Homo sapiens: one gene and its partner. The protein of the gene in region 1 interacts with the protein of each later gene in a pairwise test. Each region holds a gene or a part of one and is shown in the gene's direction. Other genes may lie near its edges. The genes, in order: BEGAIN and SAXO1.

The links.
Region 2: the proteins of BEGAIN (region 1) and SAXO1 interact in binary tests that used the Homo sapiens proteins (3 or more experiments, as listed by UniProt).

The regions. Positions count from the first base shown.
Region 1 is NC_000014.9:100,574,567-100,586,028, reverse strand, and holds part of BEGAIN (brain-enriched guanylate kinase-associated protein), read left to right. Parts: intron 1-11,462. UniProt on the Homo sapiens protein: May sustain the structure of the postsynaptic density (PSD).
Region 2 is NC_000009.12:19,020,164-19,031,625, reverse strand, and holds part of SAXO1 (stabilizer of axonemal microtubules 1), read left to right. Parts: intron 1-11,462. UniProt on the Homo sapiens protein: May play a role in the regulation of cilium length. Stabilizes microtubules at low temperature.

The DNA.
Region 1 (11,462 bases):
AGACGGCAGAGAGGGCCCCAGCAGCATCCTGCAAACCCTTAATTTTCCCGACTCTCACTATAATCAGGGCAGCTTGGAAAAGCAAGCACTGTGGCAGATGCGGCTCTGCCCGGGCTCAGCACACGGGCTCTGGGCGATGGGCGGCTGCGCTGCCGCCAAGGGCCCTCCCCAGCTTTTGTCTCATATTTATAGATTCCAAGGCTCCGCGTTCCGTTTGTCGTCAAAACCTGGAGCTGTTCGCACCTGGGAGCTGAGTGGGGAGGGGAGGGCTGCCTAGAACCTCAGCCTGGAGGATGAGTTTTCCATGCGCTGGGGTGGAGTAGGGGGACACCTGTCAGAGCCCAGGCCTGGAGAGAGGAAATGAGCCCTAAGCAATCTGGAAGATCTTCCATCCACTCTCCCAAGACTTGGGCGCAGGGTCTGGCCCACATAGCTGCCATTTATGGAACGCCTGCTATGTACTGGGCCCTGGATCAGCATTTCCACGCATCATCTCCACGGCAACACTTTGAAGGAGCTTCCCTACTCCTGCAGGCACTCCTGATGCTGAAGAGTGGATGGATGGATGAATGGATGGATGGATGGATGGATGGATGGATGGATGGATGGATGGGAGGGAGGGAGGGATGGATGGGAGGGATGGATGGATGGGAGGGAGGGAGGGAGGGATGGATGGATGGGAGGGAGGGAGGGAGGGATGGATGGGAGGGAGGGAAGGAGGGATGGATGGGAGGGATGGGAGGGATGGATGGATGGGATGGATGGATGGATGGATGGGAGGGAGGGAGGGAGGGAGGGATGGATGGATGGATGGATGGATGGATGGATGGATGGGAGGGATTGACTGAAGCCCATGAGTCCATGGCTATTGGACACAGTCCACAAATCATTACCCAGGGTCCCAGGAGGTGGGGTCCAAGGGCTGAGTAGTTGCTGAACAGATGAAGGGGTCAAGGTGTGTTACAGGAGCCTGGCCCAAGGCCTGAAGGTGATGGGGAGAGTGTAGAGTGTTCAAGTCTCAAGACTTAGAGAGGCTGTGTCCTGCTGGAGTGTGGAAGCCATGGCGGTGGGGAGGTGTGGCTCCTCCCCCTAAGGGAGGTAAGGATCCCTGGGACAGATGGGTGGGTGACCCTAGGACTCGCCGTGTTGGTCTAGAATCACCCCGCATGGTTCTCTTCTGACTCCCCTTCCTGCCGCAGAGCTGGTCGCTAGCCTTAGTGGAGAGGCCTGGACGGAGGTCTGCAGCCCTGGGTTCTGGTTCCTCCTCTGCCGCTGACTCACTGTCTCCTCTCTAGGGCTCCGTATCAGAAGCTTAACACCCATTACAGTCAGGGGAGTGACTTCTGTGGCCTGAGAGCAGGCATCAGATTGTAGCCTGTGGTGGGAGAAGCTGGCCAGAGGTGTCTCTATTGCTTTAATCATTATAGGAATGAATGAATGAATGAATGATGAATGACTAAGTGTGTGAATTCTACACTCACCTAACATGCTGTACCTAAGCACCCACTCTGCACTGCTCATTGGGGTCACTTAGGTGAGTCTGACACAGACCTTGCCCTCCACGAGTCCACAGTTTGCTGGGAGACATGGACCTTGGCCAGTACGGCAGGAGTCAGGAGCTGCTGGGGCTCTTCTCTCCCCTCTAGCCAGGAAGGGAACTCAAAAGTGGCCCTTGCCTCAGCAGGCCTTGAGTCTGGAGGACAGTACAGCAGCCTCTGTGGTCTGCCTGGGGTGGGGATCAGCCAGGGCCCAGCTCTGAGCCAAGCAGGGGAATTGCAGTCATTGGTTCAATCAGCAAGCCCTGAGCCCAAGTCAGGGATGGAGATGGGTCAGGCCTGGGCTTTGCCTGGGGAAGCCAGACATGGAAGCCTGGTCATCCCACAGTGGGTGCATGCTGGGATTAAGAGGTGCATGAGGTGGAGAAGCAACGCAGGCATGCTGAAGGGGATGCATGGGTGGATGATACTGTATGGAAGGGAAGCACTAGCAGGATAGAGCAGCGGATGGATGGGTAGAAACCTAGAGGGATAGGCTGGGCGCAGCGGCTCACGCCTGTAATCCCAGCACTTTGGGAGGCCAAGGTGAGTGGACCACCTGAGGTCAGGAGTTCAAGACCAGCCTGACCAATATGGTGAAACCCCGTCTCTATAAAAATACAAAAAAAATTAGGTGGGTGTGGTGGTGTGCACCTGTAGTTCCAGCCATTTGGGAGGCTGAGACAGGAGAATTGCTTGAACCCAGGAGGCAGAGGTGAGGTTGCAGTGAGCCGAGATCGTGCCACTACACTCCAGCCCCTGGGCAACAGAGTGAGACTCCATCAAAAAAAAAAAAAAAAAGGAAGAAAAACGAAAGAGAGAGAGAGAAAGAAAGAAAAAAAGAAAAGAAAGAAAGAAAGAGAGAAAGAGGGATAGATGGACGGGAGGAGAGGTTGATGGATGTAAGTAGCAAGATAGGGATGGGTGGGTGGACAGATGGAAAAGTTGATATGGATACAGGACTGGATTGATAGAACAAAATATCAATGGATGATACATGGGTGGAGGGAGGGAGACTTCTGATACACAAGGCAAGATTGGTAGATGAATGGATGGAAGGATCTTTGGATGGATGGATGAAGGAATGGATACATAAATGGATACAGGTAGTGCCTGGATGTTGGGATGGGTGGATGAATACTTGAATACATGTCCATGAATGATGGACAGAGGAATGAATGGACACTGGAAGAGTGAGTGCATGGATAGGTGATGAGTGTATATTGACGGATGTGTGGATAGAGGCCTGAGAAGGCAGCTCAGTGCACAAATGGATACAAAGCAATGGATGCATGGATACGAGACACAAGTAACAGAGGAATGGACAGACATGGAGGGATGGGCAGGCGGACAGATGGAGACGGGAGTGAGAGGACCAGTGAACAGATGAGTGCCCATCAGCGGGTGAGGGACACAGAGACAGAAGGATGTGTTGGTGCGTGGATGGCACCTGTAAATGGGTGAGCGGTCACAGGGGTGGATGGTGAAGGACGGTTGGTTGAATGGGTGAAGCTTCAGGTCACTCATGCCTTGATTTCCCAGATGCCAGTGTTTTGCTCACAGACCCCCATGTCCCTCTGCTTCAGAGACATATACTACGCAGGCGCAGGGTCAGGAGGGGGCTGATCAGACAGGGAGACTTAACCCCACCTTGACTTTGGTGGGAGAAAAGCCAACCCAAACTAACAGCTATTTGGCCTTTCCAGGCCCGCTTTGCCCTGGAAGACCCACTCAGGAAATAAGGAAGAAGCAGTGAGACCTCTTCGAAAGGTCAGCGGCCAGCCGGGGTTCCTACAGGGGCGTCCTTGCCCAGGGATCTCCCTGGAAGACCTGGACAGCTGTGTACATGTCCTATCTGAGGAAGAGAACTGGGGCACCTGTGTTGGGTGCTGGGGACTGGGAGACATCAAGACCATGGCTGCCCTTGGAGATTCTGAGGCCAGCGTGGAAAATCCAGGGACAGCGGGGCAGGTGATTAGGAGCACAAGTGTGCGGATTCCCAGAGCCTCAGTGTCCTCAACTGCAAAAGGGGAATAATAATAGACACTTCTGACTGGGCGCGGTGGCTCACGCCTGTAATCCCAGCACTTTGGGAGGCCGAGGTGGGCCGATCACGAGGTCAGGAGATCAAGACCATCCCGGCCAACATGGAGAAACCCCATCTCTACTAAAAATACAAAAATTAGCTGGGCATGGTGGTGCGTGCCTGTAATCCCAGCTACTTGGGAGGCTGAGGCAGGAGAATCGCTTAAACCGGGGAGTCAGAGGTTGCAGTGAGCCGAGATCGCGCCACTGCACTCTAGCCTGGCAGCAGAGCGAGACCTGTCTCAAAAACAAAAGAGAAAAAAGAAAGAAAGGAAAAAAAATAAACTTCTGTGCTGGGACGAGGGGAAGGTTGGTGAAGGTGACCACACCTCTGCTGGCCTATGCTGCGGCCCCTGGCGCATGCCCGCACCATGGGGGTTTACCCGAGACCCCTCAGAGCCCAGTTTCCTCCTCCGTGAAGCGGGGTAGCTGCTCCTAGCTTTCAGGCCTGCTGTAAGAATGAAGCGAGGTGACGTTTGGCACTGTCAGCAGAAGCCCGGCATGCCTGCCCACTCGGCAGGGTCCTCCCAACATCCTGTGGCCTGGTCTTCCTGCTCCAATCCCAGCAGACAGTGGGCAGCCTCATGCCCCTTCTGTCCGAGCTGGCAGGGGCCAGCTTTCCAACCACAGGGGCAGTGTGTGCCAGGCAGCAGGAGAGGGGCTTGGGCATCTGGAGAGGAAACGGGTGTGAGTGCCTGACCTTTGGGGTTCTGTCCTGGGCCTGACATGCCCAAGCCATGTGACCTCCGACGGGTCACTGCACCTTTCTGAGACCCTGCTTCTTTTAGCAGAAAATAGAGCCTTTGGCTGTCCTGATGCACAGAGGCGGGTGGGGATTTGGGGTGATGACGCATGCACAGCACGGAGCTTGGCACGCAGGATGGGCTTGGGAAGCAGGACTGAATCAGATGAGTCAAGAGGCAGGGGCTGCGGTGCCAGGAGCCGGAAGCCCCTCCAGGAGAGGTTGTCCAGGCTGCTGGTAGGTGAGCAGGTCCAGGCCGTGAGCCCACGGTAGCCGGCAGCATCCTTAGAGCCTCAGGCCCAGGCGCCTGAGAGCCAGCAGGTTGTTATGACAACGGAAACTTGCCTGATGCAGCCTGAAACTCTGGAAGCAGCTCAGAGGACTGGTTGGCCAGAGCCCCCAGAACACTCCTGCAACCATGCGTGCTAGTGAAACGGCCACATCAGAGCCCCAGTGCTAATGAGTCCTGAAGTCCCTTGCTCATGCCACTTCCCAGCACTGCCATGGGCTGAGTACTGCCCCATGCCCACCTGACAGATGAGGAGGGGATGTGGCTTGCCCGCAGGCCTGTTGGAGTGTTGGAGAAGGGATTTGAACTTGGATCTGCCAGCCTCCAAGTCTCTTTCCCACTGGTAATAGGGCAGGGGCTGAACGGCTGCTGCTGGGGAAGGGCTGTCCGGGTGTAGAGGGGCGACTGTCGGGGACCATAGGGTGGGAGGAGGACACTGTGGCCTCCCGAGAGCCTGAGATCCCTCCCCTATATTCTCATCCTGTTTCCAGTCACAGTAGGCCCACACCAGGCTGGGGATGTTTGTGAACTGACAGCCTGAACCTGCTATGCCATTCATTCAGTCAGTCATTCAAGAACTACGCATTGAGCACCTGCTATGTGCCAGGCCCTATGCAAAGAGCTGGGATACAGTGGAAGTTACATTCTACGGGGGGACACACACACAGATAATAAATAATTGCAAACATTAGTTACAGCTGGGGGCCAGGGCTATAAGGGGCTGCCGCAGGGGTACTTGATCTAATCTGAGGGACAGAGGGGGACAGGCTGTGAAACTGGGACCCTGAAGGTCAGCTGGGAATTAGATGATGGGAAGGAGGGGAAGGGAGAGAGTGAGAGTGTTTCTGGCAGAGGGAAAGCAAGTGCAAAGGCCCTGAGGTCAGATAGAGCTTAGCACATTCAGGACCTGAGAGACGTTCCTTGGCAGCGGGGAGCACGGGGCGGGAGGGTAGCAGAGAGAGAGAGAAGACACCAGCAATTGTCAGGGCCTTGCAGTGTATATGAAGGTGTGACGTTGTCTAGTCACCTGGCCTGTGATTTTATTTATTTTTTCTTTATTTATGTGTTTATTTTTTAGATAGAGTCTTGCCCTGTCACCCAGGCTGGAGTGCAGTGGTGTGATCTCAGCTCACTGCAACCTCTGCCTCCCGGGTTCAAGTGATTCTTCTGCTTCAGCCTCCCAAGGCTGGGACTACAGGCAGGCGCCACCACACCCAGCTAATTTTTGTATTTTTAGTAGAGATGGGGTTTCACCATGTTGGTTAGGCTAGTCTCGAACTCCTGACCTCAGGTGATCCGCCTGCCTCGGCCTCCCAAAGTGCTGGGATTCCAGGCGTGAGCCACCGCACCCGGCCTGGTCTGTGATTTTAAAAGGTCACACTCGCCGTGTTTGTGGGATAGGCCGGGCTGGATCCGCATCGACTCAGGAGGCACAGGAAGGGATGATCGCAGATGTCCAAGTGAGACATGGTAGTGTCTGGTACCAGCAAAGTGATGGTGAGGATGCAGGGAGGTGGCCAGGCCTGAGAAAGGCTGAATCTCCAGGGCCTGGCAGCCAGGGGCGGGGACAGGGAAGAGGGAAGGAAAGAGTTGAAGCGGCCCCTGTTCCTGTCTTGGGTGGCTGAGGCCATGGTGAGGCCACGCACTGAGTTTTGCAGACTCAGTCAGGGGCGCTTTGGGCATTCAGAGAGGTGTCCGGCAGAGCTCAGAAAAGCAGGGGTCCTCAGCACCTGATGGAGGCATCCAGACAGAGCCCAGATGTACAGCTATGAGCATGCCACACAGGGCCTCAGCCTCGCTCCAAGCAGCACCAGAGGCCAGGCCAGCGATGGTGGTAATGCCCACCAGGCCAAGGGCCTGGGCTGCCACCCCTGGAAAGCCTTCCTTCAGTCTAGCAGCCTAAAGCCGCATCCTAGGAAGGATCTCTGTGTGGGGTGCAGTGGGCAGGCGTGTCTCCCTTCACACAAATGATGGAGGGTCCAGGTCTGGCTCTAACCCTTCTCTAAGTTTATCTCCCTGGCCCCACTCCCACCTAACTACACCCGAGGCCTCCATGTGCCAAAGGCTCTTGCTCATAGCGTTAACAACTGCTTTTTCTCACCCTAACCCTGTATATCATTGGAGAATTGCACATAGCTGCTACCAACAGAGATGAAATAACCATAGCTTAAAGACAAGAGGTTATTTTTCTTTCAAGTTAAAGAAGTACCAGAAGCAGGCCAGGCACAGTGGCTCACGCCTATAATCCCAGCACTTTGGGAGGCCAAGGCAGGCGGATCACCTGAGGTCAGGAGTTCGAGACTAGCCTGACCAACATGGTGAAACTCTGTGTCTACAAAAAATACAAAAATTAGCCAGGCATGGTAGCAGGCGCCTGTAGTCTCAACTACTTTGGAAGCTGAGGCAGGAGAATTGCTTGAATCTGGGAGCGGAAGTTGCAGTGAGCCGAGATCATGCCATTGTAATCCAGCCTGGGCAACAAGAGCGAAACTCCATCTCAGAAAAAAAAAAAAAAAAAAAAGTACCAGAGGCAGATGATGCAAGGCTGGTGTGATGATGATTCAGTGGTCATGAGATATCCGGATTCCTTTTGTCTTTCTGCTCCTCCATCTTTTATATATGGCTGCTGCCACAAGTTTGTCTCATGGTGCAAAATGGCTGCCACAGCTCCAGCCATCACTTCCATGTTCTAGAGAAGAAGCAGGAGGTTGGTGAATGGGAAAAAGACACAGGCTGGCTGTCTGATCTTTTCTGCAGAGTTCTGCCAGCAGTCACACCCAACTTCTGTTTATAGTTCATTGGCTACCTCCTGGCCTGGCTTATAGGAGCCTGGGAAAGGTGGTCTTTTAGCCGACTACCCTGTATCTCAAAAGAAAATGAAGGCTCTGTAATAAGGATGCATGGGAGGACTGTGGGCTGCCCGCAGCCTCTGCCACCCCCTTCCATTTGCTGGTTTGCTGCAGTTCCAGTTTGCCCTGCTTCAGGCCCAGCACTCAAGCCATCATGGTGGCCACCGTGGCCATCTGTCCACTGCCTGTCCTCTGTGCCCCTGCACCCTGCACCGCACCTGGCAGAGGAGATGTGAGAGTAGGAGAGGGGGAGGCCCAGCCTAGGGCCCTGTGCACCATGGGAGCTCACTCAGGGAGGGCTCCTCCCCAGGCAGAGCCCAGGACACGACCTTCCCCTCTCTAGCACTTTCTAAGCCCTGAAGCTCAGCTCTCATTTAGTGAGAATCGATTTGGGGGTGGGAGGCCAAGAGGCCCTGCCACTGGATCAATGGGCAGGCGGGCATCTGGCAGGCAGCCCTGGCCTGTGAGGACGGGAGGCACAGCCCCCAAGAGGGCACAGGGATCCCAGCCCCATGGGAGGAGAGGAGTGGGTGACGGCGCTCTTGGGGAGCCCGGACCTTGGACTGACTCAGGAGGATGCTCTCAGGGGCCAGCTCCCAGGCACGGGGCTCTAACCCTACCTGTCCCAGGCAGGACGGCTACAGCTCCCTCCTGGAGCCCGGGACAGAAGCCCCCATCAAGGAAGCTCACAGACAGGACCTTCGAAGCCACATGCCAAGCCCCAGCCAAGGTCGGAACCCCAAGGGCAAAGCATCTTGCCACCGCTGGGCAGCTCGGTCCAGCCAGGAGATGGCCCGGGTGTCGCCAGCCCAGCCTTCCTCCCCAGAGTCCCTGAACACAGGCAGCCGGGCTGTCACTGGCTCCCTCGCACGCCTGGGCCGCTGGCGGGAGGCCAGACTGCCCTTCTCCAGGTTCCTGGATGAGGTCACTGTGCGGGTTCTGGACCCTGGGACCCTGGAGGCCTTCAGGGTGCCCAGAGGCCGCAGCCCAGAGCCCTCTGCAGTGGATCGAGGCCAAGGTCTAGCCCAGGAGGCCCTTACAAGAGCTGCAGCCCCAGGGGAGAAGGACCCAGCCCTGAGCTCCCAGCTTTCTTCGGAGGCGGCCACTGAGGCTGCAAGCAGAGTGGGGCCAGGCCAGGCCGTGGGAACTAGTGGGCCTTGCTTGGGCAGTGGCAAGCGTGGAGGCCGGACTGCCTCCCCTTGGAGGTCTCCAGGTCGGGTGAGTCTCAACCCCAGAGGTCTCTTCCCTCCCCATGTGCCGCTTCCCCACAGGCCCTGGCTGACCTGCTCCGAGTTCCCTCCCCACACCCCATTTATAATATTTGTAACGGGAAAGACCTTAATTGCCAAAAGAATGAATCTCTAAGGTGAAATTTCTGGCTTTGGGGCAGGCAGACTATTTCTGTACGGAAGGCATATGCATGAACAGTAATGATAACAATTATAATAATCCCCTCCCCACTGCGGCAGAGCCTTGGTGGTTTACCTTGGGCTTTCCCGTGATTATCCTTTTACATTTTTGAACCTGACACAACCCCACATGAGGCAGACTGTCCCATAGGCCTGTCAGGCAGCTTTCATAGCTGCCCCAATTATATGGAGTTGGAAACTGAGGTTGTGAGGGGCTGCCACTTGTCCCGGGTGACACAGGTAGTCCGGGCTTGGGCTGTAGAGCTCTTTCCTCGTACCCCGTCCACACATGCACTCTGGCCTCAGACAGATGGACAGGTGGATGGGCAAAAGATGTGGTGAGATTTCCTTGGCTGTCCTGGTGATGGAGCTGTGCAGAGCGTCGGGCAAATGGGACCTCATCCAGGGGCTGGCACCCCCACCTTGGTGCTGACCTTTCCTGCCCTGTACCATCTGTGTCCCCTGGGCCAGGGAGGGTCCTCGTGGGCTGCCCGGATGTTGCTCGTGCCCCAGTTCCACCTTCTCCCAACACAGGATGGAGACGGAGGCCGTGGGATGGGTTTGTGGGATATCAACCTGTAGCCACCCAGGAAGGCTTTCCTGCCGGGAGGGGGTCTGTTCTGAGGATGAATTCCGGGTGAGCACGGTGACTCTCGCCGAGTGATACTCGCCGAGCATTGACTAGTGTTCTCAGCTTCTGACCCCCAGCTTGGGCGCAACCCCAGGAGGTCGGCGCCATCATTATGTCCCCAGTGCATGGAGGAGGAGGGAGGTGGAGGAGCCGGGTTGGGCCCAGGCACTTTGCCCTCCACCTCTGCACCTCTGCCACCTGTGTGCTGCTGGCCCTCAGGTGGCCTGCTCTGTCCAGGGATGGCCAGGGACAGGCCGGTGGGTGGGAAGTTCTGGTGATTTGAAGCCCTGCCAGCCCTTTCCCTGTAGGTCTGCATGGCCAGCTGGGGCCAGGCAGCTCTGGGTGGAAGTGCATCTCGAGGGTCAGTGGCCTTCTGTGTGACTCTGGACAGGTCACCCATCCTCATCATGCCTCAGTTTCCCCAGCAGTGAAAAGTCAGTCATGACCACAGGCACCTAATAAGCATTGTTTCCCCGCCTGCTCCTCCAGGGGTGGTGAGCTGGGAGCCCCACTTCTCTGCTGCTCTTGGCTCCACTTACCACGCAGACCGTCCTCTGGGGGCTGCTGGGCCCTGGGGGAGTCCTGGTGCCACCCAGGCCCTGGAGGATTCCATCCCAGGGCTTCTTGCACATATCTCTTGGGGCCTCAGGGCCTGTTGGGGCCCAACAGTGTGTTCAGGGGGCGAGGCTGCACCCTGGGGCCTGGCCAGAGTGGCCCCACCCGGGAACCCAGCTTGACTCCTTGAAGCGGGAGGTGGCATCAGCCCCAGCAGGAGGGGCTGGACCATACCTGGCCTTGGAGGCCCTGGTCTCCAGGCCTAACTCCTGCTGCACCCCACCTTCCCCCACCAGCCCCCCAGGATCGTATCTCATGATGGGCACCAACTCTGAGCCCCTCAGCTCCAGCCTCAGATCAAATACAGCAAGCCTGAGAAAGTGATCCTAGGGTCAGTCTCATTCTATAAACCAGGCACTGAGGCCCGGAAGACTGAGTCCAGCAGAGTCCTGGTTGGGCTGTGCCCTGGCTCAAGTCACACTCCCCCCAGTGTCTCCATGGGGACATTAGAGATAACTGGGGAAGGACCCTGGCCCAAGGTAGGGATTCAGCCGCCGGGATGATAGTGGTGATAAAGATAGCGATGCCAGCCCTTCACAGGGGCTTGTCTGTTGATTTGAGCACCCACTGTGTGCCTCGTACCTTCCTGGCCTGGACAAGCCTGTGTCCCCAGAATGCTTTCTGGAGGGGGTGGCTCTGGGGAAGCAAGGCAGATCCCTGGCTTCCAGTCACCAACCTGCAGACCGTTTCTTGAGAGACAATGCCTGGGGCTCCACCATGAACCACTTCTGGGAGGAAGCTGCTGCCCCAGGAGGACCCTGGGTTTCAGTCCTGTCCTGTGCTGTCCTGCCTGGCTGAGTGGCCATGGGTGAGTCTCTGGTCCTCCTCTTCACTGGTCAGCAAACAAGAGGCTACTGTAGAAGGTCTCTAGGACCGCCGGTTATCACAGACTTGGGACTGAGCCTCATTTATACTAGTGTGAATGACTCGATCCAATGTTTATCTGAGAACAAAAGTCAAGAAGGAGCAGGAAGCACAGGGCCAGGGGCATGGCCCTGGGTGGGGTCATGACAGCACCCCCAATGCAAGTCCCCAAGGCTGCAGTTGGATCCTGTCTGAGAGGCTTTCCGGCTGAGTGACCTTGAATAAGTCACTCTGCCCTACTGGCCTCAGCCTCCCGATAATAGGGAAAGCTCAGATGTGGATGGTCCCCTTCCTGAATGGGGGACCCCCAAGGTGCCTGGAGAGGGGGCAGCTGCTTCCCAGCCCCGCTGACTGTTGCCACGTGGGAATGTGGGCCGACGTTGCCAGATCTTCCAAAATTTTCAGTAGAAGCCAAAAATACGGATTTTAAAATGTAAACTCCC
Region 2 (11,462 bases), on another chromosome or scaffold:
GTCTAGGACTACATGTTACCAAGCAAAACCTTTTTTTCTAAGGCCGCCTTTCTTTTTTCTTTTTGGAGGCAGTGTCTTGCTCTGTTGCGCAGGCTGGAGTGCAGTGGTGCCATCTCGCTTCACTGCAACCTATGCCTCAGGGTTCAAGTGATTCTCCTGCCTCAGCCTCCTGAGTAGATGGGATTACAGGCACATGCCACCATGCCTGGCTAATTTTTGTATTTTTAGTAGAGACAGGGTTTCAACCATGTTGTCCAGGCTGGTTTTGAACTCCTGATCTCAGGTGATCGCCTGCCTCGGCCTCCCAAAGTGCTGGGATTACAGGCATGAGCCACTAAGGCCTTCTTTCTACTGGGATGCTTTACATTACCCTCCTGTGTCCTCCTGCATTGTTCTAGGCATTGGGATTGAATGTATAAGACATAGTCTCCATCTTTGCACAGCGTGCAGTCTAGGTAGGAAGGCAGAATGCTCATTAAGAGGTGCAGAGCATATATAGTGAGAAGTCTCCCTCCTGCCCCTGCAGTAGGGTTATGACTCATTTGGGTGTTCCTTCTCTGACTCTGTTCTCATTCTGTCCCTGCAAAGGAGTCACTTTCCATTGGAAGCAGAGTCTGTTCTTGTGTCTCTTCTCCTTTTCTTCTCTCCTCATCCTGTATTTTCTCCTCCATTTTATGGTTTCAGCCAATAGTTTCTCCTGTCTTCTGAATTCCAGTTTCATTTTCATCTTCTCAAAGTGCTTTGGTGATCCATCTGTCTCATTAATCTCAACTTCAACAACCTTCAAACATTATTCTGGTATCTGCCCCATTCATGGTGCCAGCAATCTTCCATTCACCCTGGGTGAAAATTTTGAATCATCTCTTACTCTCCCTCAAACAGAACATTGAATCTTTTTCTTCTTCTTATTTTTTTATTTTTTTTATTTTTTTGAGATGGAGTCTTACTCTGTCGTGCAGTGGCGCGATCTCTGCTCACTGCAACCTCCGCCTGCTGGGTTCAAACGATTCTCCTGCCCCAGCCTCCCAAGTAGCTGGGATTACAGGTACCCACCACCATGCTGGGCTAATTTTTGCATTTTTAGTAGAGATGGGGTTTCACCATGTTGGCCAGCTGGTCTTAAACTCCTGACCTCAAATGATCCACCTACCTTGGCCTCCAAAAGTGTTGGGATTACAGGCGTGAGCCACCGAGCCTGGCACATTGACTCTTTTCTAAAGTCTGGGTCCCTCCTCCATTGTAATCTTTCTTTAATTGGTCCCTTCCCTTTTATTCCGGTTACAACCTCCCTGGTTCTCTCATTTTTGTGTTTGGAAACTGGTCCTAAATTACCTTCCTAGTTTTTTTTTCTCCCATGATTCCCTTACATGAAACTACACCTTGAATTGGATCAGGTTTCTTGGCATCCCCTGAGTGGACCTGCTGATGTCCCTTTTCTGATCCTTATCCTTTCCCTTTCTCTAAAATACCTATGTTCCCTCCTCCTGCTGGACTTGTAAGGCCCGGTTTCACTTGCAAGTTCCCTGTTAACCCAGCCCTGTGGCTCCCCATCAAAGAAAAACCCCGCTCCGTGTTCTCATCCTCTATGCATCAGCATGCTTTATATCCTCGATTAATTATATGTACGCTGGGAAAACAGATATTTTCTATTTTTGTGTGTGCACTGTATCATAGCAACACAGTTTTCTTTATTAACAGCTAACACATATCTTTTTGAATGAATGGATGGCGTTTTTTGTTTGTCAAGGTCATAACATGCTGGACTGGGTTAGGAATGTAAGATTTAGAGATGTACTGTCCAGTATGGTAGCCAGCTGTGGCAATTTCATTTAAATAAATGAAAGTTAAATAAAACTAAAAATTCAGTTTCTCAGCTGCACAAGCCACATGTCAAGTGCTCAGTAGCTACTCGAGTATAGTCACTCCCATACCGGCACATGCAGATAGGGAGTGTTTCCATCACTGCGGAAAGTTCTGTTGGACAACACTGATCTTGAGTCTCATTATTTGGAAGTCTTGATCTCTCCCACCCCAATTAAATCCCTCCCACCCCAATTAAATCTGCTCAGTGACCGGTTGGGATGGAGCGAGGAATTTTATAGGTGTTTTCTAAGCTGTGGAAGTCTATATTTGGCTTTTCCAGTCTGAGGTCATGGGAAAAAGCAATGGGAAATCTGGAAGACAAGCATGCATGAAGAAGTCAGAGACAGCGCCCTTGAGTGGGAGGGGGAGACCGGGGTTCCTGAGTGAGTCACTGGTTCTCTCTGGGCTTCAGTTCCCCCATTTTTTAATCCTGGAGATTTGTGGAGACCCTCAGGGCTGCCAGGGAGGGAGAGAGGCACATTTATTCCCCCTTCTCTCTCACATTCTCTTCTTCCGAAGTTTTTCTTGAGCAAATAATTCTTTAATGTCCTTTCAACTTTAACTTTTGAGGACATTGTACTTGTTGGCGAGTGGGCTCTGGAGATGCTCAGAGGCCTGGATAAAAAGGTGTCCATCTGCAGGAGCAGCTGCCCACAGCTGCTGAGGAAAAGCCACCAATGGGTGACTCTCTTGGAGCAAGTTCTTATATTTGGCCACAAGATGGCAGACGTTTCCTGATCAATTCTCACTGCGGGTTAAACCAAATCAGCCTGAATGGAAAAGCAAAACCTTTGGAGTTCTGGATTTTATTTTATTTTTAAATAGATTTATCTTTAGTTTTCTAAAATGAGCAATTAGAGTTTAGGGTCCAGCAGAGCTCAGGAAAGTGGTACGCCTTTCAGAGTAGATGGCAGATTACGAAGTGAAAAGTGTTTCAAATGTCTAAATTTAAAGATTCCAATCACTTGTAAAACTTTTCAGTGAGCTTTGCTGGGCTAAAAAAAAAATCAGACATATTTTACTGCGTCAAGCTCAAGGCTTTGCCTCCACAACAATGCTCTACTTCTTTCCTTGAAGATCAAAATCTTGCAATTGGAATTATTACCATAGAATGTCATAATATTCTCTTTTCAACATAATCAGCACCAAAAAAGCAGAGTATTGTGGTTTGCAGAAACAGTAAGGTCAGCATCTAAATTTTTTTTGAAACTAATGTACCACTTAATTATCTTGACTTAAGAAGCTACATGGTGGGGGAGTGCTTTGAATAGAGTAACTCTAATTTTGTATATGAGAGTATAATGTTTCCAATTGCATCTGATTATCTCCAGCATTTCCTGTTATTGAAAAAATGCTACTCCGAAGAGTTTTATTTTTTATTTTTTTTGAGACGGAGTCTCGCTCTGTTGCCCAGGCTGGAGTGCAATGGCGCGATCTTGGCTTATTGCAACCTCCGCCTCCCGGGCTCAAGCGATTCTCCTGCCTCAGCCTCCCGAGCAGCTGGGATTACAGGCGCCCGCCACTACGGCCGGCTAATTTTTGTATTTTTTTTGTTTTGTTTTATTTTGCCTCTAAACCATCTTTTATTGCGCACTTCAGCCGCGAGTCCGGGGCTGGCCTGCCGTGCCCTAGGCGTAGTACTGTAGGTTGGCTTTCTTCTTGGCCTGGACCTCCAGGATGCCTTCCATGTAGTCCTCGTGGGTGAGCTCCGTGGCACCCCTGCGCAGTGCGATCATACCCGCCTCCACAGACACAGCCTTGCACTGGGCCCCGTTGAAGTCATCTGTGCAGCGGGTCAGCTCCCTCGCAGTTCACGTCAGGACTGACGTTCATCTTTTGGGAGTGGATCTGCATGATTCTGGCCCAGGCACTCGATCTTGCGGTCCAGGCCGCCCTAGCGTAGCAGGGCGGGGTCCAGGATGTCCACCCGGTTTGTGACTGCAATTACCTTAACTTGGGTGTTGGGCTGGAAGCCATCCAGCTGGTTCAGAAGCTCCAGCATCGTCCTCTGCACCTCTCGGTCCCCGGACTTCTCGCTGTCAAAGTGCTTGGTGCCTATGGCATCCAGCTCATCAGTGAAGATGATGGAGGGCGCTTTCTCCTTGGCCAGGGCGAAGGCATCCCGGACTAGCTTGGCACCATCTCCAGTGAACATCTGCACCAGCTGGGGGCCAGTCAGCTTTAGGAAGGTGGCCTTAGTCTGTGCCCTACAGGCCCAGGCCAGGAGGGTCTTCTCCGTCCCTGGGGGCCAGCACCCCTTTTGGATGTTGGATCCGCAAGTTCTCAAACTTCTCCTTGTGGTTCATTGACAAGACAGTGGCCTCCACCAGTTCCTGGATCTGCTTGTCCAAGCCCCCAGTGTCACTGTATTGCTCCGTGGGTCTCTCATCCACCTCTGTGGCCTTCACCCGCGAGTCGTACTCTGGGCAGTGTCTCCAGGATTGGATAGGAGTCTTTGTTCACACCCACCAGGTCTCCTGGCTTTAGCTTTTCAACATCCACCAATCCAATCACAGGTAGGAAGTATGTCTGTCGTGTAGAGGTTTTGATCACAGCACACTTGTCCTTCCTCTGGGAGTCCAGGTCAATATTTGGACCATCCTCCTCTTGATCATTGGGATCAACATCCAGGAGCTCGATGATGTTGGAGACAAGGTACACCAGGGTTTTGTTCACATTGATTTTCTCACTGTTCTCTTTGATCTTGTCCTTCATGGCTTGGAGCTCATGGGTGACTCTCAACAGTTAACTCTTCATGATCTTGATCTCACTGTCCAGAAGCCATGTGCGCTGGATGATCTCCTCCGTGGACATGTTGAGCACCTCCACCCCAGTTCCATCTTGCTTGGCCTCATCCCACACGGTTGCCATCTTCTTTTCTAGTTTTTGAATTTTTAGTAGAGATGGGGTTTCACCATGTTGGCCAGGCTGGTCTTGAACTCCTGACCTTGTGATCCACCCACCTCAGCCTCCCAAAGTGCTCAGACTACAGGTGTGAGCTACCACGCCCGGCCCAGCATTTTATAATATTAAACCACCTTCCATCTTTACAGTATTTTGAAAATTCAAAAAGTATTTTCCCATATATTATTATCTTACTGTGGGTCCCTCAACATGGGAAGCATTGCTTAGTTTGGAAATTCGATTCCTTGATTTTAGCCTCTCTTTTCCCTGGCGATGTTTTCAGTCTATTGAGCTGTTCTTTCCCAGATGACTAAATTTGAAACTGTGGTTAGGTGGGGGAGTGGGTGGCGCAAGGCAGGGTTGCTGTAAAGTAAAACGTTAATCAGACTTTTAAAGCTGAAAGGGATCTTAGTGGTCTCTAGCTCTTTTATTTTACAGATAAGGAAATAGAAACATTGAGATTAATTTTAATATATGGGAACATGTTAAGCTTCAGGCACAATTTAGGTCAATCAATTAAATTTTATTCATATTTTACTGGGTATCAGACACTGCTAGGTGTTAAAATTTATAGTCTGGTCTATTTTCGAGTCACACTGGACCATTTAAAAAATTGATACATAATGATTGTACATATTTCTGGGGTACAAGTGACATTTTGATATATTCATATAACATGTAACAATCAAATTAGGGTAATTAGCATATCTATCACTTCACACATTGATCATTTATTTGTATTGGGAAGCTTACAAATAATCTTCTAGCTATTTTGAAATATATGGCAAATTATAACTATAGTCACCCTACTGTATTATCAAACACTGTAATTTATTTCTTCTATCCAACTTATTTTTGTATCCATTAACCAACTTAATTAGTTCCCCCAACTCCCACAATGGGCCATTTTTGATTGTAGAGTACAATATGAAGGCTCTGGTCCAACTGAGAAAATAGTATCTGATATAAAAAAAAAAGTGTAATTCTAAAAGCCTTTTAGTAAAGTAATATAAATAGCAAATCTCCCTCCTGAGATTAAAATGTAGTAACACTACTTTTTCTAAAATTCTTGTAAAAAATTGTTAATGAAGGGATTGATATAGCTTACTTTTATATCTGATTATTTTACAGCTTACAGTGCACCATTTTAAAGATTTTGTGCAATCTTGCAGGAAATTCCAGGACTGGTTAATGTATCATGAAATATTTATGAAGCATTGGTAGTATGTGCAGCATTTCATAAAAAAGGTAGTCCCATAGAGGACTCAAAAATTGCTGAAAAGGATGTGGATTTGGCCCTTTCACAGAGCTTGTGGAGGAAGGTGATCTCAGGGGCAGCCATGTATCTGCAACTTAAATCAGTTATGTTAACCAGGGAGGAACTTGTTATTTTAATTTTGGAAAATATTTTCTTCATATCGATGGAAATTTCCTTAACCTTAGATTTTATTTTCTTAGAGTCTCTGTTACACATTAAGAGGAAGGAAAAAAAATTGAGGACTTGGTTTCATATTACATGTTTTAAGAAGAATTCTTATTTTTAATTTAAATAAAATTGACTTCATAAATTCTGATTAAGGAAAAAAAACACAAAGAACAGCCTTTAACAGATACTTGCTGATGACTTATCTTTAGCAGAATCCAGATAGAGATGCCAAGAAAAAAAAGAAAAACTTTCACGTTAAGATTGAATTTTTATTGTAGATTTCATGTACTTTTCATGTTAAGCTATGTTATGCTCCTTAAAAATGGCCTTTTTTGGATATCAGAATTAATGTTTAATTGTTCATAAATACCTTTCATCTTATAAAATGAGTACAAGTGGGTATATGTCAAATTTCAGATATTATTAGAGTACAACTTCATATTCCAATTACAGCAGTAAACATGATCTATTCGACCTTATAGTCTGCAGATGGATCCGTTCAGAGTAACATGTTCTGATTCTGTTCTGTAGTGGGCAGTTTTAAACGTCATTCCCTCCATTGATATTAAAATATTTATTACTGACCTTCAGGTGATTTATAGTTTATTTGGAAAGATGACATGTCTCGGGATGGGTGGTGGAGGGGTGGAAACAGCTACCCTTAGATGAATGAGACCAATAAAACAAGTGATGTAGGATGTGAGGGGTGGGAGAGGCGCTTTGGGATGGGGTAGCCGGGGAAGGCTTTAGGATGGAGAAGTGATGAGGAAAGTGAAGCTGGAGTGAGACTGCCTGGTTTCAAATGCTGGCTCTGCCACTTTTTTTTAAATTTTATTATTATTATACTTTAAGTTTTAGGGTACATGTGCACAACGTGCAGGTTAGTTACATATCTATACATGTGCCATGTTGGTGTGCTGCACCCATTAACTCGTCATTTAGCATTAGGTATATCTCCTAATGCTATCCCTCCCCCCCTCGCCCCACCCCACAACTGTCCCCGGTGTGTGATGTTCCCCTTCCTGTGTCCATGTGTTCTCATTGTTCAGTTCCCACCTATGAGTGAGAACATGCGGTGTTTGGTTTTTTGTCCTTGCGATATTCTTAAGGTTGGTGTGAGGATTAGGCGGGAGAGGAGCACAGGCCCTGGAGGAAAGGGTATGTTGGGGTTTAGTGCGGCTGCCCTTGCTGCAGGGCAGGGCAGTCAGAGAGACACGGAAGACATCATGTCTGCCTGAGTACTTGAGCCTGCAGGAGATCGTGCCGGAAGCTTGCTGGAGGCAAATTGCAGAGGGACTCTTACATGTCTCAGAATGTGAACTCGCCAGCAAAGAGCCATGGATGGATTTTGAGCTGGAGAGTAACATAGATAAATAGTCTTTTCCCCCGCAAAAAAAAAAAAAAAAAAAAAAAAAAAAAAGCCTTAAAGAGTAGCATTTCTTCTTCTTTTTTAAAATATAGAGATGAGGTGTCACTATGTTGCCTAGGTTAGTCTCAAACTCCTGGGCTCAAGCAATCTTCCCACCTCGGACTCCCAAAGTGCTGGTGTGAGGAGCTACTGTGCCTGGCCCCCTTTGTTCGTTCCTTCGTTCCTTTCCTCCCTTTCCTTCCTTTCTTTCCTTTCCTTGCTTTCCTCCCTCCCTTCCTTCCTTCTTTCTTCTTCAGAAATGCCCAATATCTGAATTAGGCTGACTTTAAATCTGTTAATGTTTTGGTTTTTCTGAGTGGATTTGTAGTTTGCTAATATTTCCTTAAAGATATATTATCTCCATTCCATTCTTGTCACTTTTCTTAACTTGATTTAACACATGATTAAGTGATGATTGACTACGAGAAGTGGCAGAGTATTGCAGTTCCAAGCGCAGACTGTGGAGCCAGCCTATCTTGGTTCAAATCCCAGCCTTTCTGCTCCCTAACTGTGTCATGTTAAACCATTTCACAGTGAAGTTTCTATTTCTGTGTACCTCAGCGTTCTCATCAGTAAAAGGGAGATAGAACCTGACTCAACAGAGTTATTGAGAGGATTGAATCAGTATTAAGCAAGTAGAACAATGCGTGCATCCACAGTAAGGCATAGGTAGATGTTATTAAATAAGCATAAAGGTCTGTTCTAGGCAATGAAGAATGAAGAAGTGTACTTGCCTGAGCACTTGAGTCTGAGTGGGAGATCCTGCCAGCAGCTCTGTGGAGCTCGCACCCTAGAGAAGAGAGTTAGGATTGTTTACTAACTTGCATGTAATAAAAAATGCCCTGCAGAGAATTAACTCCGGTGGGGCGGGGGGGTGGGGGGGGATGTAATCTGGTGTTTGGGGGGCTTGATTAAATATTGATGATAAGAATGGTTTGCAAAGACTTCATCTACTCCTTATACTCTGGGAGGCTCTCTGCCCTTTCTGGGATGCCTACACTTGAGTCCAGCATTTATTAGGCTTTGTGAGTTCATACTGACATTAACAAACACTAAGGTTAAGTTGCTGTTCAGTTTTGAACTTTGCAAGTCTTCAAAACAATGACTCTGGGGATTAAAGACGTACTCCCTGCATAGCATACCCTACTATTCTGTTTTATTGTCTTTACCAGCTTGTTCAAAGTAACTTTGAAGTTTCTCTGGTTGTTTCTCTAAAAGGAAAGAAAAATGTTTCTAAATGGCTGTCAAATTAGCTGCTAAGCAAAATATATCCTTATATTTTAAATATCTAGACTATCCAAAAGCCCTTCATTCTAATGTTAACAAATTGGGGTTGTAATGTAAAAAATCAGTTAAGTTTCTCCCAGTGCTGGTCAATAACTTAACTTTTAGAAACTACCCATTATGAGTAACTATTTTTAAAAATCACTATCTTTCCCCATAATGGTCCAATTTCTCTTTCAAGTATGATGCATTTCAAGTCTTCTGCAAATGAAAAAAACTCTACATACAATCTGTGAACAACAGCTCCAAATGAAGAGCAGAGTCAATTGAATACCCTGTTCTTTATCTTGCTTCACATGGGAGGGCAGTGAGTAATATTAGGGGAAGAACATGCTATTGTGTCTGGAATTGGTTCCTTCTGGTGGATTCTTGGTCTCACTCACTTCAAGAATGAAGCCGCAGACTCTCGCAGTGAATGTTACAGTTCTTACAGATGGTGTGTCCAGAGTTTGTTCCTTCAGATGTTCAGATGTGTCCAGAGTTTCTTCCTTCCAGTGGGTTGGTGATCTCTCTGACTTAAGGAGTGGAGCTGCAGACCTTTGCAGTGAGTGTTACAGCTCTTAAAGGTGGCGCCTCCGGAGTTGTTCGTTTCTCCCCGTGGGTTCGTGGTCTTGCTGATTTCAGGAATGAAGCCACAGAAACTCACACTGAGTGTTACAGCTCATAAAGATAGTGCGGACCCAAGGAGTGAGCAGCAGCAAGATTTATTGTGAAGAGCAAAAGAACAAAGCTTCCACAATGGGGAAGGGGACCCGACCCAGTTGCCACTGCTGAGCAGGTTGCCCTTGCTGGCTTGGGTGGCCAGCTTTTATTTCCTTACTGGGCCCTGCCCACATCCTTCTGATTGGTCCATTTTACAGAGTGTTGATTGGTCCATTTTACAGAGTGCTGATTGGTCCATTTTACAGAGTGCTGATTGGTGCGTTTACAATGCTTTAGCTAGACACAGATTGCTGACTGGTGCAGTTTTACAGAGTGCTGATTGGTGCATTTGCAATCCTTTAGCTAGACACAAAAGTTCTCCAAGTACCCACCTGACCCAGAAGCTCAGCTGGCTTCACCTCTCACTATGACTGTTGGGATTGCAGTCCTGGATTTAATTACTTACAAGCTTTGTGAACTTGTTCAGGTCCTTGAATATCTCTAGACTGTCAAAAATCAGTGATCCTCAGACAGTGGGATTCCCATCATCTATAGCGGTGTTTTTTCAGGTCCAGAGAACTTCCATGTCAGGGCCCAGAAGGTGTCTGCAGAGGTCTTCTACAGCCTCTGCTGGCGACCTCAAGAGAAGTCAGGGAAAAGGGGACATGGGGCACAGACCTGAAGGTGGACAGATGTTTTCCTGAGTTCATCAAAAGTATTTAATGGCTAGTTGGGAGTATGTGTCTTTCTCGGACCTTATGGCTCTTGCGGTGTCTGATCTGTTTTCTTCTGGGTACTCTGACTTCCTCTGCACGTTGGCTGTCTGTGGCTACCCCAGCCCTAGCTTCATACCACTTCTCATTTCAGAGAACTAAAGAGTTTAATGTGCTGTTTCCAAATTCCACAGAAAAGAGCTCCTGGTTGGGTCCAGCCTGTGACAGGTGGCTCTTCTGGCATGAGGCTGTCTCCTGTGGTCTAATCAGCTGAGCATCAGGAGGGGTGAGGTCACATAGAACAAACTGGGCAGCTAGAGGAGAGCAGTTTTAGGTAATAAAGATGTAGTTTGGAAGAAAATAATTAAGAGGAAACAATTGGCCTTGCAACAATTCTTGCCAAGATAATCTTGTGGATAAAGCTAGTGAAAGATGGGTTGGATGACAATATTAGGTTAGGTGGATTCCCAGGTCATTGAACAAGCAGGCCAGAAGAGTTTCAACAGATGGCTTTTTACCTGCTTAAAACAATGTCACCATTGTTAGTGATACTGGAACAATATCCCCATGCCCTAGAACTCTATTGTTAGCTTTGTCATGTTCAACATTTTTAATCAAAACTTGGATGAAGACACAGAAGACATCCTTATCAAGTGTGCTGAGAACACAAAGTGAGAAGAACATAGCAAGCATAATAGATGACAGAATGAAGATTCAAAATTATCTTGGTTATGCCCAGTGGCTCACACCTGTAATCCTAGCATTTTTGGAGGCTGAGGTGGGCAAATCACTTGAGCCCAGGAGTTCAAGACCAGCCTGGGCTGCATGGTGAAACCCTGTTTCTACAAAAAATACAACAACAAAAAATTAGCTGGTTATGGTGGTGCGTGCCTGTAGTCCCAGGTGCTGGGGATGCTGAGGTGGGAGGATGGCTTGAGCCTTGGAGGCGGAGGTTGCAGTGATGCAGTGAGCTGAGATCGCACCACTGAATCCCAGCCCAGGAAACAAGGCAAGACCCTGTCTCACAAAAAAAAAAAAAAATTATTTCGACAGGCTGAAATGCTGGGCCCCAAACAAACTGGAACTTAGCAAGAGTAAGCATGAAGTTTTACATTTGGGATGAAAAATCAATTACACATAGTCATAATGGAGGTGGTTTATCTTGGCCTTTTCAGTTTGTGAAAAGATCTTGGGGTTTTACTTCACTACAGTTTTATGTGAT